2 linked regions of the Homo sapiens genome follow. The protein of the gene in region 1 purifies or fractionates together with the protein of each later gene. This does not show direct contact. Each region holds a gene or a part of one and is shown on either strand. Other genes may lie near its edges.

Region 1 (5,525 bases):
ACATAGCCTCCTAGCAGAAGAGATCTGTTCTCTAAAAATAGAGATTGAAGATATACAAAAATATTTGGATCATATTATACACATCAGATATTTATTCTTCTTTAAGCCAATTCTCTTTGCTTTTGACTTTTCACTCAAAGTTCAGCCAAAAAAAAAAGAAGTTTGGCTTAAGGGTGAAGCAAAGCCAGTGTGCAGAATGATCAAAAGTTGAAAATAAGCAGTTTATCTTAATTATTTTCTTCCTCAGTGTCTTCCTACTCTCTCCCATCCCCGCCATCCTGAACCCTTAAGTGACTTGTTTCCTCCAAGGCCTCTGCATTGGACTTCCGTGGATGTCTCATGTTCTAAACCAGGGGTCCCCAATCCCGGGCTGTGGAGTGGTACTTGTCTGTGGCCTGTTAGGAACCCGGCCACACAGCAGGAGATGAGTGGAGGGCCATCAATCATTACCGCCTAAGTTCTGCCTCCTGTCAGATCAACCACAGCGTTAGATTCTCATAGGAGTGGGAACCCTATTGTTAACTGCGCATGGGAGGGATCTAGGTTGCTTGCTCCTTATGAGAATCTAACTAATACCTGACAACCTGAGATGGAGCAGTTTCATCCCGAAACCATCCCCTCCCCCAACCCCGTCCATGGGAAAAATGGTCGTCCACAAAACCGGTCCCTGGTGCCAAAGAGGTTGGGGACCGCTGTTCTAAACTACCCCTTCCTGTCACTCACTCCTAAATCCAAACTCCCTTTAGGCCTCCTCCAGGGAAGGTTGACTAAACTTTCATCCAGAGGTGTGAGTCATGGTGTTAGTGACAAATGAAAGCTATTGTTCAGCTCACACAACTGGAGAGAGATCAGCCTGGGGTTCTTTGACTTTTGGTGTGGTCAATGACAAGAAACACACACCCGGACACAGGAAGGGGAACATCACACACCAGGGCCTGTTGTGGGGTGGGGGAGGGGGGAGGGGTAGCATTTGGAGATATACCTAACGTTAAATGACAAGTTACTGGGTGCAGCACACCAACATGGCACATGTATACATATGTAACTAACCTGCACGTTGTGCACATGTACCCTAGAACTTAAATAAAAAAAAGACACACCCACTCATGCAACCAAGAGGACTTTGAGATTAACCCACAATCTCACTTTATCACTGCCTCACATCACCCCTTGGTCCAGAAGTTGGGAGAAGGATATTCTCTACTGGAGCCAGAGGGCAGAGTCAGGGAGGAGCTTGTTTCCACAGCCTGAGGGTCTGATAAGCATAACGTATATAGAGTTGCTGGTGTAGAATGCACTCAATAAATGTTGGTCTTTGCCTCTTCTCAGTGGAGGCCAGCTTCAGCATGGGGGACCCTGGGATTGCATACATGATATATATATAATAATATTATTGCTTACACACCCTGTGCCAGGCACTCCTTCAATTCCTATAACAACTCTGTGAGGTAGATACCACACATTTCAAAAGTAGAAACTGAGGCCAAGAGAATTTAGGTGATCTGCCCAACTTATTCAGCTGGGAAGTGGATTCAGACCCACAAGTCTACTGTAGTCCGTTTCCTTCAGCTTATCTACACCACATTACCTCTCTTGGATGCCTGCTTGTATTTTGACTCTGCAGAAAAAGGCTGCATGACCTCTCACAAGAGACAGGGCAGTGAGTGACAGGAGGTGCATCATCAGCCTCAAAAAGGAGGCATACCCTTCCTTTTTTCGTGGGCTGGATGGAGCTGTGGTTCTCATCAGTGCCCTCAGTTTTGTGCAGCTGGCTCACTTCTCCATTTCATTCTAATCAGTCAACTGCACTATTCCAGGTTCAAACTAACCCTTACATCATCAAAACAAAAATATTTACACTGCTAAGCTAACGGCCACCTCAGCACGGATCAACAAGATGACCATATGCTTTACTGCCGTCTGCTGGAAAATTATGGCAACAACTACCCAAATACACAAAGCAAAGAGTGCCCCCCTGGAGTAGTGCAACGCAAAAATGTTTACAACTGTGACCAACAGCTCTGCTTAAAAGGCTTCTAGTAATTTAGCCAATACTCTGGGGATCAGAGGGAGTACATGAGGCATAAAAAACAGTCCCCAAGGAATTTTCACAGGGTTTTCTCTGGTAACTGATAACTAGTCCCATGGTATCTGCATTTTAAAACAGAAGCTTGTTAACCTAAATAAGTCTCCAATTAGTGGGATTTAAATCAGTATGACAAGAGTAATGGGAAGTATTTCATGCAGGGGTGAACATATTTTTGGTGAGTGATGTCTTACAAAAGTCCCTTTACAAAATAATGAGAGTGTTTCTCCAGACATCTGCAATTAAAGCACCTTCACATAAAGTCTCTCATTTGAACTACGTAACAACTTTGAAAAGTGTTATAACTGTCTTCATTTTAAAGATGAGAGGAAGACAATGGAGGAGTTTCATGCCTTTTGTATGCCTGGTACTGTGTTCAGTGCTTTATATTCATTTTCTTATTTAGCCTTCACAAGAATCCTAAGAGTTAGATGGTTTTCTCCTGTTTTAAATAAAAAAAAAAAAAAAGAAAAAAAGAAAAAGAGAGAGAGAGAGTCTGAAGGTTTTGCCCCAGGTCACTCAACTGGAAAGGTTCAGAGTCAGGACTTGAACCCAGGTCTGACTGTTCTAAGCCCAAGATTTTTCCAATACATACAGTGTACAGGCAAACCCAGGGACCTGCTTTCCTGAATCTGGTGCCAGCTGAGTTAGGGAGGCAAAGATCATTTACTGAGCACGTTCTACATCAGGTACTTAACATACTATTTTAAATGCTCTTTACAGCAACCATTTCAAGTAGGTATTACCTCCTCCTCCCATATCTTACATTCAAACATGCATGAGTCGTAGTCAGGATTTCAGCCAAAGTCTTTCAGCTCCATCCATAGCTTCTGTTCTTTTCATGACACAGGTCCTAGAGGGAGTCTTCCTGGTACCTCCTAAAGCAGGCTCCGTGGGAAGCCATTACACTTCCCATGTGTACCCACAGGGAGGACGCTTCCCTGCTTGCTCCTCTCCCTTTCTTCTCCTCCCCGATCTTAGTGCTAACAATTCCATCCTGCTTTCCTTCCTCTACAGGTGAGCATCTCCACCGTGGGCTACGGAGACATGTACCCAGAGACCCACCTGGGCAGGTTTTTTGCCTTCCTCTGCATTGCTTTTGGGATCATTCTCAACGGGATGCCCATTTCCATCCTCTACAACAAGTTTTCTGATTACTACAGCAAGCTGAAGGCTTATGAGTATACCACCATACGCAGGGAGAGGGGAGAGGTGAACTTCATGCAGAGAGCCAGAAAGAAGATAGCTGAGTGTTTGCTTGGAAGCAACCCACAGCTCACCCCAAGACAAGAGAATTAGTATTTTATAGGACATGTGGCTGGTAGATTCCATGAACTTCAAGGCTTCATTGCTCTTTTTTTAATCATTATGATTGGCAGCAAAAGGAAATGTGAAGCAGACATACACAAAGGCCATTTCGTTCACAAAGTACTGCCTCTAGAAATACTCATTTTGGCCCAAACTCAGAATGTCTCATAGTTGCTCTGTGTTGTGTGAAACATCTGACCTTCTCAATGACGTTGATATTGAAAACCTGAGGGGAGCAACAGCTTAGATTTTTCTTGTAGCTTCTCGTGGCATCTAGCTCAATAAATATTTTTGGACTTGAGTTGACTTGAGAAAATTTTTTTTACTTTAAATTTTTCTAAAATTCTTAACTTTCCAGAGGGAGGGAGGGTTACAGCAGAAATTATACAAGCTTTGGAGTTAGACCAACCTTAGTCAGAATCCCAGAGCTACCAGCTGTATGCTTTTAGGCAAGCGACTCTAACCCTTTAAGCCTCAGTTTCTTCAACTGTGAAATGTAGGCAATACTTACCCTGCCAGGCTGAGCAATATAGTGAGACCCTGCCTCTACAAAAACTTATTAAGAATTATCTGGGTGTGCTGGCCCACACCTGTAGTCCCAGCTACTTGGAAGACTGAGGTGAGATCACTTGAGCCCAGGAGTTTGAGGTTAGAGTAAGCTATAACCACATTACTGCACTCCAATCTAGATGGCAGAGTAAGACCCTGCCTCAAATAAATAAATAAATAAATAAATAAATAAAACCACCTGCCTTGTAAAATGAGTCTGGGGATAACAGATATGTGTAAACGCTCAATAAATGATAGGTATTAAAATTGTTTAAGTGGATGTTATCTAGTGAAATCTCTAGACCAGTGGTTCTCAAAGGCAAATTCATTCCTCAGAGGCCAGCTAATGCCTAGAGATGGTTTTGATTGCCAATACCGTGAGGGGCAATAAGGGAGACTTCTGGCATCTAGGAGCTAGGGGCCGAGGATGTTGCTAAACATCCTACAAGGCAAAGGACAGCCCCCATAACAAAGAATTATCTGACCCAAAATGTCAATAGTGCCAAACTGGAGAAACTCTTGTCTAGATTTAATATGGGAGCCCCCAGATTGGACTTGTGAAACATGCCTAAATGTACTAATCCTCCCCCATTAGAAGGAGCCCCCATACTGTCCTTACTGACTCAGGCCTCCTTTTTCTCTTTTCCACAAAAGGAAGAAAAAAAAATAGCCCACCTCCTGAACAATTGCTGTGGGCAAAAGTAATTAAATCAGTGTGGCCCTCCACTCTCACTGTTGGTGGATTAGAGAACCAGTGCCCACAGGAAATGGGTCCTTTCTCTCCCTGTAACCTTTTCCTCTTCATTTCTTTGTCCTTCCTTGGGACTATTGGAAATGGAAGTGTTGAGAATTAAAGACTCCTTTGAACTGAGCACACAAAGATTGCCCTGTAACTGGAGCTTGCCAATGCAGACCCTCAAATTTGTCTCGGGGCATGGCTGGACCTATACTTGTGTCATAAGAATAAACTGCTGATTCAAGCAACAGAGAGAGAAAAAAATAAGAATAGTTGCCTACAATGAGAGGCAATTTGGACTGTATATGTAGCATATAACTTTAATATTTAATACATCCCTAAATAAGGTATTGGATTACTTTTTAATTTAGGAAGAAATGGAAGCTTGGAGAAGTTAAGTAATTCCACTACGTTCACACAGCCAGTAAACAGTGGGACTGGGGTTCAAGCCCAGGTCTGTCTGATCCCCAGGGCTCTTGATGGAGGGCTAAACTTGTATCATCAGCATCACCTGGACGGCTTGTTAAAGCCAAGCATGCTGGGCCCTGTCCCTGGGGTATCAATCAGTAGGCTTGGGAAGGAGCTCAAGGATTTGCATTTCTGACAAGTTCCAGGTGATGCTGATGGCGCTTGTGTGAGGGAACACATGTTGAGAGCCAGGGGTCTAAATCACTTTGCTCTGCCCTCCCATAAGGAGCTAGGATTATGAAAGGAGGCTATAACTGGAAAACTCTATTTAGATCCCACTCCCCCTTACTCCCAAGTGTTCTTATCATCAGCAGTGACCTGGCCTCTGAAGGGTGAACAGAAGCCCTACTGTCCTAAGGTTGCCAGATAAAATACAGG
Region 2 (7,326 bases), on another chromosome or scaffold:
GCGATTGGAATCTGGTGACAAGTGGTTCTCCCTGGAATTCTTCCCTCCTCGAACTGCTGAGGGAGCTGTCAATCTCATCTCAAGGTAAACTCATGCAAGGTTAAGGTGGGAGGCGGGAGTGGTGGTGCCTGGGGAGCAAACTGTCAGCCCTGAGGCTGGGCTGCCCTTTAACCCGGCAGAAAAAAGCAGCCGGAGGGGGCAGGAAGGAGAAGGCAGAGTGGGTCATCTGATCTGCAACTTCTCTGTTGCCTGTAAAAGTCCCTCCACAGTGTCAAGGTATTTTAGACACACTCTTCAATGGGTTAAAAATGTTGATTCTCACACTGTATTCTTTGAGGGAACTTGGGGGCTGGATCACGAGTGCAGTTTAGGAAGTCACAAAGCAGTGAGATTGTTTTCAGCAAGTTAGAAATTTGGATTATGCTTCTTGAACTCTAGAAATGCCAACTGAATTACATTAGCACTTCATGAATTGCAGTTTTTTTTTTAAGTTTATGCCTTTTACTGTATGCACGTCTCACGTGTCACTCCCAAGTTTTTGAAGTTTAAATGCACAAGGATGTTTAAATACACCGTTGATAGCTTGTAACACAAGTACTCGTGCACATCCAGGCTTTTTTTTGAGTCTCGTTTCGGAACTTGGCCTTGGTCTGCATAACTGTAAGCTGCTGCACAGGGCTTGGGGGGTGGCATGAAAGAAAGTGAGTCTGCTGACCCTCTTTCTAACTGTTCCTACAGCGAGGCTGTGCTTGCCACAGTTAGGATTCCCCTAACTCTCAATCATGATGTCTTAACTCACCTGAGATAATAAACAGGCAAGCGCTGTGAAAAGTCTGAAGTGCTGCTCTCACACAAAATGATAGCGCTGTTGTTGTGTCTTACCTCTGTAATAGTGATTATAACGGCACCTCACATATACTGAGTATTCGGTTTGTACACCAGGCACTGTTCTAAGTTCTGTGGAACCAGCTGCCGTCATATTCTCCTAGTGTTATGGTTTTTTGTTGTTGTTGTTGCTTTTTTTTTTTTTTTTTTTTTTTTGAGACAGAGTCTCATTCTGTGGCCCAGGCTGGAGTGCAGTGGTGTGATCTTGGCTCATTGCAACCTCTGCCTCCTGGCTCAAGCAATTCTCCTGCCTCAGCCTCTCAAGTAGCTGGGATTACAGGTGCCCACCACCACACCCAGCTAATTTTTGTATTTTTAGTAGAGATGAGGTTTCACTATGTTGGCCAGGCGGTCTGGAACTCCTGACCTCAAGTGATCCACTCACTTCAGCCTCCTGAAGTGCTGGGATTACAGGCGTGAGCCACCACGCCCAGCATCCTAGTGTTATTATGAAGTGGGTACTACTATCTGCCGTGTCTTATAAATAAGGAAACAGAACTCACAGAGATTAAGTAATGTACCCAAGATCACACAGCTATAAGTAGCAAAGCCAGGATATGAACGCTGATTGGTCTGTCTCCAACCTTCATTGATGCTTCTCTAACTCCCGGGCCCCATGGGAAGGCAGTGACGGATGGTATTTCTCCTGGAACCTCTCTTCAGAAACAAACCCCCTACAGGTTTGACCGGATGGCAGCAGGTGGCCCCCTCTACATAGACGTGACCTGGCACCCAGCAGGTGACCCTGGCTCAGACAAGGAGACCTCCTCCATGATGATCGCCAGCACCGCCGTGAACTACTGTGGCCTGGAGACCATCCTGCACATGACCTGCTGCCGTCAGCGCCTGGAGGAGATCACGGGCCATCTGCACAAAGCTAAGCAGCTGGGCCTGAAGAACATCATGGCGCTGCGGGGAGGTGTGGAGCCAGCACTCCCCTACACTCTGGGTTCTGGCTTTCCCGGAGGCCACTTGGTAGCCTGAACTTGGTTCCTGAAATGGTCCTTTACTTCTTCCTGGGCCCCACGCTGAGGATCCGCAGGATCCCATCCCCGCCAGTAGTGTCAGTAGGCATTGTGGGTAGTGAGTCATCCTGGGCACCACACACAGGCAGCCACCTCTTCCACCTCTTGACCTCGACATAGGAGTTCCGTCAGGAATGCAGTCGCGGCCTGATAACCCTCTGCCTTGCCTACACCACTGCATCGATTGCTGGCTGCACCCAGCACTTGGCCCAATCACAGAGTAACAGAGTATCCAGGAGTGAGAATAGCCGGTCAGGCCTCTGGTGCCCGCTGTTGTCAGGCCACCTAAGAGTGGGAAGAGGGAGCCTGATGGGTGGGATCCTATGGCCTCGTGCTCCCTACCACAAGACCCCTTCACTTGAGATGAGTAGAAAATTCTCCCAGGAGGCAGGAGCCCCAAGGCCGTGGGATGGGAGAGGGTGGCAGGCATGCCCAGGTAGAAGTAGGGAAGGGCTCTCCAATCCTCCAGGCACGGTGAGAAGCAGCGGTGGTCTCCTATTCTCCACCGCCAGCACAGGGTCAGCATGCAGTGAATATTGAACTGGTGGGCTGCTTTTTTCCCTCCTGCTGTCTTACCAAGTGCTAGAAAGAGACGAACCAAACCTAAATAATATGAAGTTTCTGCCTTCCAGGGACTCGCAGTCCTGGGTGTCGGGGCTAGGTAGAGGGAACAGAAAGGGTCTCTGGAGGTTGGGTGAGACCCAGTGACTATGACCTCCACCAACCCTGCAGACCCAATAGGTGACCAGTGGGAAGAGGAGGAGGGAGGCTTCAACTACGCAGTGGACCTGGTGAAGCACATCCGAAGTGAGTTTGGTGACTACTTTGACATCTGTGTGGCAGGTGAGTGGCTGGATCATCCTGGTGGCGGGGATGGAGCTAGGGAGGCTGAGATGCCCAGAGAGCCTGTCGGTGTTCGGTTCAGGACACAGTGATCAGGGGCACTCATGGGTCCATGCTGGATGAAGGACATGCAGAGGTGAACTGCACCATGTCCTTGCTCCTTTTGTATCACCCACTCCCCTCCTGGGCCTGCCACCATCGACCCCTAGCTTTTTGTTCCTCTGCCTGGCTGTGCCCTTAGCCTGCTTGGCCTTATTCTTTTCTTTAAAACGAAAGAGGGGTCTGGGCGCGGTGGCTCACACCTGTAACCCCAACACTTTGGGAGGCCGAGGCAGGCAGATCACCTGAGGTCAGGAGTTTGAGACCTGCCTGGCCAACATAGCGAAACCCCGTCTCTACTAAAAATACAAAAATTAGCCAGGTGTGGTGGTGCACGGCTGTAGTCCCAGCTACTCAGGAGGCTGAGCCAGGAGAATCTCTTGGACCCAAGAGGCGGAGGTTGCAGTGAGCCGAGATGGTGCCGCTGCAGTCCAGCCTCAGTGGCAGAGCAAGACTCCATCTCAAAAAAAAAAAAAAAACAACACCCCACAAAAGAGGGATATTTACTAACAGGATTCCAGAGGGCAGGGAACCCAAGATCAGGAGATGGCCTCAGACCTCACAAGGCACTGGAAGAGGTCAAAAAGCAAGGCCCTCCCTCATTCCCTCTGGGGCCACAGGGTCCCCCATCTCCGCTTCCCACTGCACATCTGTGCTTCATCTGGGAGACCTGATACCCATGCTTTTCCACACACCTGGCCTGCTCCTGAGTGTGCAGAGTGTCAGTTCCAGCCAGTTCCCCAGGCTAATGGACAGGCCTCCGTTCCAAATTCCCAGGAAAGAGAATCACCATTGGCCACAGCCACAAGACCAGGTTCCCCCAACAGAAATGGGTGGGTTGGACTTCTCTCCCACCCTTGAAGCTGAAGGCTGGCATTGAGCCCTCAGCGTCTCAGACAGCGCTCAGGTATGGCAAGACAGTGTGCACCAGGGACAGGAAGTCCCGGGATTGGCACATTTTCTGGGATGACAGTTTTTTTGCCAATATTCTGGGAGAAATCCTACCATTTTTATATTAAACATGGCTATGTTATGGAGTAGCATCTAAAGTGATATGAACTAAAAAAAAAAGGCCAGGTGCGGTGGCTGAAGCCTATAATCCCAGCACTTTGGGAGGCCAAGGCGGGTGGATCATGAGATCAGGAGTTTGAGACCATCCTGTCCAACATAGTGAAACCCCGTCTCTACTAAAAATACAAAAATTAGCCGGGCATGGTGGCGCGTGCCTGTAGTCCCAGCTACTTGGTAGGCTGAGGCAGGAGAATCGCTTGAACCCAGGAGGCGGAGCTTGCAGTGAGCCGAGATCGCACCAATGCACTGTAGCCTGGGCAACAGAGCCAGACTCCGTCTCAAAAAAAACAAAACAAAAAACCCAAAAAACAAACCACGTGGCTTCAAGAAAATTACATGTTGTGAGTAACTTTGGCCTTGTCCCTAACCCCCGATGGACATGTCCATTCTGTCAACAGGGGTGTTTAGGTGCTAAGTCTGGGAAGCACTGATTAGGAGTCAGAGAACAGACATTTCCAACTGTTAAATTGTCATCGCTTGTATCAGCCATTATATAGTCAGTTACTGGGGGAATATGCACCCGTGATGGGCGTTAGGTGATAATGATTGGAAACTAGTGAAGCTGTGAGCTCACAGTTGCTGAATGGTTTCTTACTTTGCTTATCAAGTGGGTAATGAAGATGAGTGGATTAGAAAACACCAACCTGTTGGGCATGGTAGCTCATGCCTGTAATCCCAGAGCTTTGGGAGACTGAGGCAGGAGATCAAGACCAGCCTGGGCAACACAGTGAGACCGTGTCTCTACAAAAAATAAAAACATTTTAAAAAAGAAAGCCCTCAGCTGTTCATGATAGAAAAATAGAGTAAATAGCAAAATCTATACGTAATCAAATGCTAGATTTGTTCGGTGATATTTAGGTATTGTAGCTATACTTTTCAGCTATTAAAAAGCCTTGTTGTTTCTGAAATTCCTACTGGGAAAATAGCTTTGTTATTGCAAGTGTGAAGCCCCATTGCTTTATCCCCCACTCCCTTACCCCTTGAAACAATAGTTTTTATATTCATTTTTTGATGACTCTGGGTTTCTTAAGAACGGAACTGCCTTATCAGAGCAAAGCAGCTTGGCCTTCCGCCTGGCTCAGAGTCCTGCCCTGGGCTTGGGCTGATGAAACCAGCACTCCATGTAGTTTCATGAAGGCCTATGGTCATCCTGCTTGCCTGACCGAGCAAGGCGGCTAGTAAGTTTAGTCATTGAGGAAAGGGGTCAGAGAGTTCACAGAGCCAGTAAGGAGCCTATGGGACATCTGATCCCACCTCCTAAGCAATTCTGGAATCTTGTCTTCAGCATCCACTGCCCCTGTGTTTTCAGACTCCAGGAGCTCATTGTTTTGTGAGTGGCTTATAGTACTCTAGCCAGCTCTCTGAACCGGATGCTGGTTCTGCCATTAGAAACAACACAGAATATGACTAATAAAGAACTTCACTAGGGGGCTGGGTACAGTGGCTCATGCCTGTAATCTCAGCACTTTGGGAGGCCAAGGTGGGAGGATTGCTTGAGCCCAGAAGTTCCAGACAAACCTGGACAAGATAGCAAGACCCCATCTCTAAAAAATAAATAATTAATTAAAAAAATTTTTTTTAATTAGCCAGATGTGGTGGCTTGCATCTGTAGTCCAAGCTACTCAGGAGACTGAAGTGGGAGATCACTTGTGCCCGGGAGTTCAAGGCTACAGTGAGCCATGATTGTATCACTGCACTCTAGCCTGGGTGACAGAGCAAGACCCTGTCTCTGAAACAAAACAAAACAAACTCACCTATGGTGGATCCTTTTTCCCCAGGACAGACCTTTGGACATTTGAAAGGAGTTTCTGTATTCTTTTCATTCTTTTTTTTTTTTTTTTTTTTGAGACGGAGTTTCGCTCTCGTTGCCCAGGCTAGAGTGCAATGGTACGATCTCGGCTCACTGCAACCTCTGTCTCGTGGGTTCAAGCAATTTTCCTGACTCAGCCTCCTGAGTAGCTATTACAGGCATACACCACCACACCTGGCTAATTTTTGTATTTTTGGTAGAGACGGGGTTTTACCATGTTGGCCAGGCTGGTCTCGAACTCCTGACCTCAGGTCATCCTCCTGCCTTGGCCTCCCAAAGTGCTGGGATTACAGACATGAGCCACCGCACCCTGCCATCCATTATTTTCTTTGAAGAAAACATCACTTTCTTCAGTTCTTCCTTGTGTAACTTGGTTTTTAGCTTTTCACTATCTTGGACCCCTGAGTAATTTCAGTGTTACATTAAAAACAATGTTTAATCCGGTGCCTAGAGAAAAGTCAAGCTTACTACCCCAGATGCTGCCCAGCCAGTGCTAACTGTAGCATTTTCTCTTTTCTATGGCCACCAAGTGCAGGCCTGATTTGCTTGGCTGCTCAAGGCAGGACAGTGTGGGAGTTTGGAGCAATCCACCCCCACTCTTGGAACTGGGCTCTGAGCCACCTCCCCTGAGAGTCATCTCTGGGGTCAGAAGCATATCAGTCATGAGCCCAGCCACTCACTGTTTTAGTTCAGGCTGTGCTGTGCTGTTGGAAGGTGCAAGATCAGAGCCCCCAAAGCAGAGGACTCTCTCTGCCCAGTCCCTGTGGTCTCTTCATCCCTCGCCTTGAACAGGTGGAGGCCAGCCTCTCCTGACTGTCATCCCTATTGGCAGGTTACCCCAAAGGCCACCCCGAAGCAGGGAGCTTTGAGGCTGACCTGAAGCACTTGAAGGAGAAGGTGTCTGCGGGAGCCGATTTCATCATCACGCAGCTTTTCTTTGAGGCTGACACATTCTTCCGCTTTGTGAAGGCATGCACCGACATGGGCATCACTTGCCCCATCGTCCCCGGGATCTTTCCCATCCAGGTGAGGGGCCCAGGAGAGCCCATAAGCTCCCTCCACCCCACTCTCACCGCACCGTCCTCGCACAGGCTGGGGGCTCTGGGTGGAGTGCTGAGTTCGCTGAGTTCTTCCCAGATCTCCTCTCAGGTCCAGAACTTGCACAGCGTTGCTTGGCCACCCCATTTTGGTTACCTCTAATTTTCCCCCCAAAACCCAGCAACAGTGTCTGTTGAGGGGTTTGTTGTACTTTGGCCAACAAGCATCACCAAAAGGGATTCTAATTCTCATTACAAATCCTGCTTAAATCAGTGTTTCCCAAAGGTGGCTGTCATCAGAACCACTTGATAAGCTTTTTCAAAAAGTGGATCTCCAGGTCCCACCCCTGGAGGTTCTCACTCAGTAAATCTGAGGGAGGTCCTCGGAATGTGTGTTTTACTTCTTGAGCTTGGCAGGTGATTCGGATGATCAGTGCAGCATGGGAACAGCTGGGTTAGATGACACCATGTTACCAACAGACACATCTAGGGCTAAAAGGCTGGCTCAACCCAAGGCTGGAATGCTTAGGGCAGCTGCTCTACTCTGTAAAAAGTG

The links. Proteins that work in one complex are often made in the same cells at the same time.
Region 2: the proteins of KCNV2 (region 1) and MTHFR purify together in Homo sapiens (affinity purification with mass spectrometry; 2 studies listed by BioGRID and IntAct, with this or other methods). This does not show direct contact.

The regions. Positions count from the first base shown.
Region 1 is NC_000009.12:2,726,343-2,731,867, forward strand, and holds the end of KCNV2 (potassium voltage-gated channel subfamily V member 2), read left to right. Parts: intron 1-3,103; coding exon 3,104-3,385; 3' UTR 3,386-3,695; downstream 3,696-5,525.
Region 2 is NC_000001.11:11,795,639-11,802,964, reverse strand, and holds part of MTHFR (methylenetetrahydrofolate reductase (NADPH)), read left to right. Parts: coding exon 1-84; intron 85-1,548; exon of another isoform or gene 1,549-1,565; coding exon 1,566-1,804; intron 1,805-2,642; coding exon 2,643-2,753; intron 2,754-6,565; coding exon 6,566-6,759; intron 6,760-7,326. UniProt on the Homo sapiens protein: Catalyzes the conversion of 5,10-methylenetetrahydrofolate to 5-methyltetrahydrofolate, a cosubstrate for homocysteine remethylation to methionine. Represents a key regulatory connection between the folate and methionine cycles.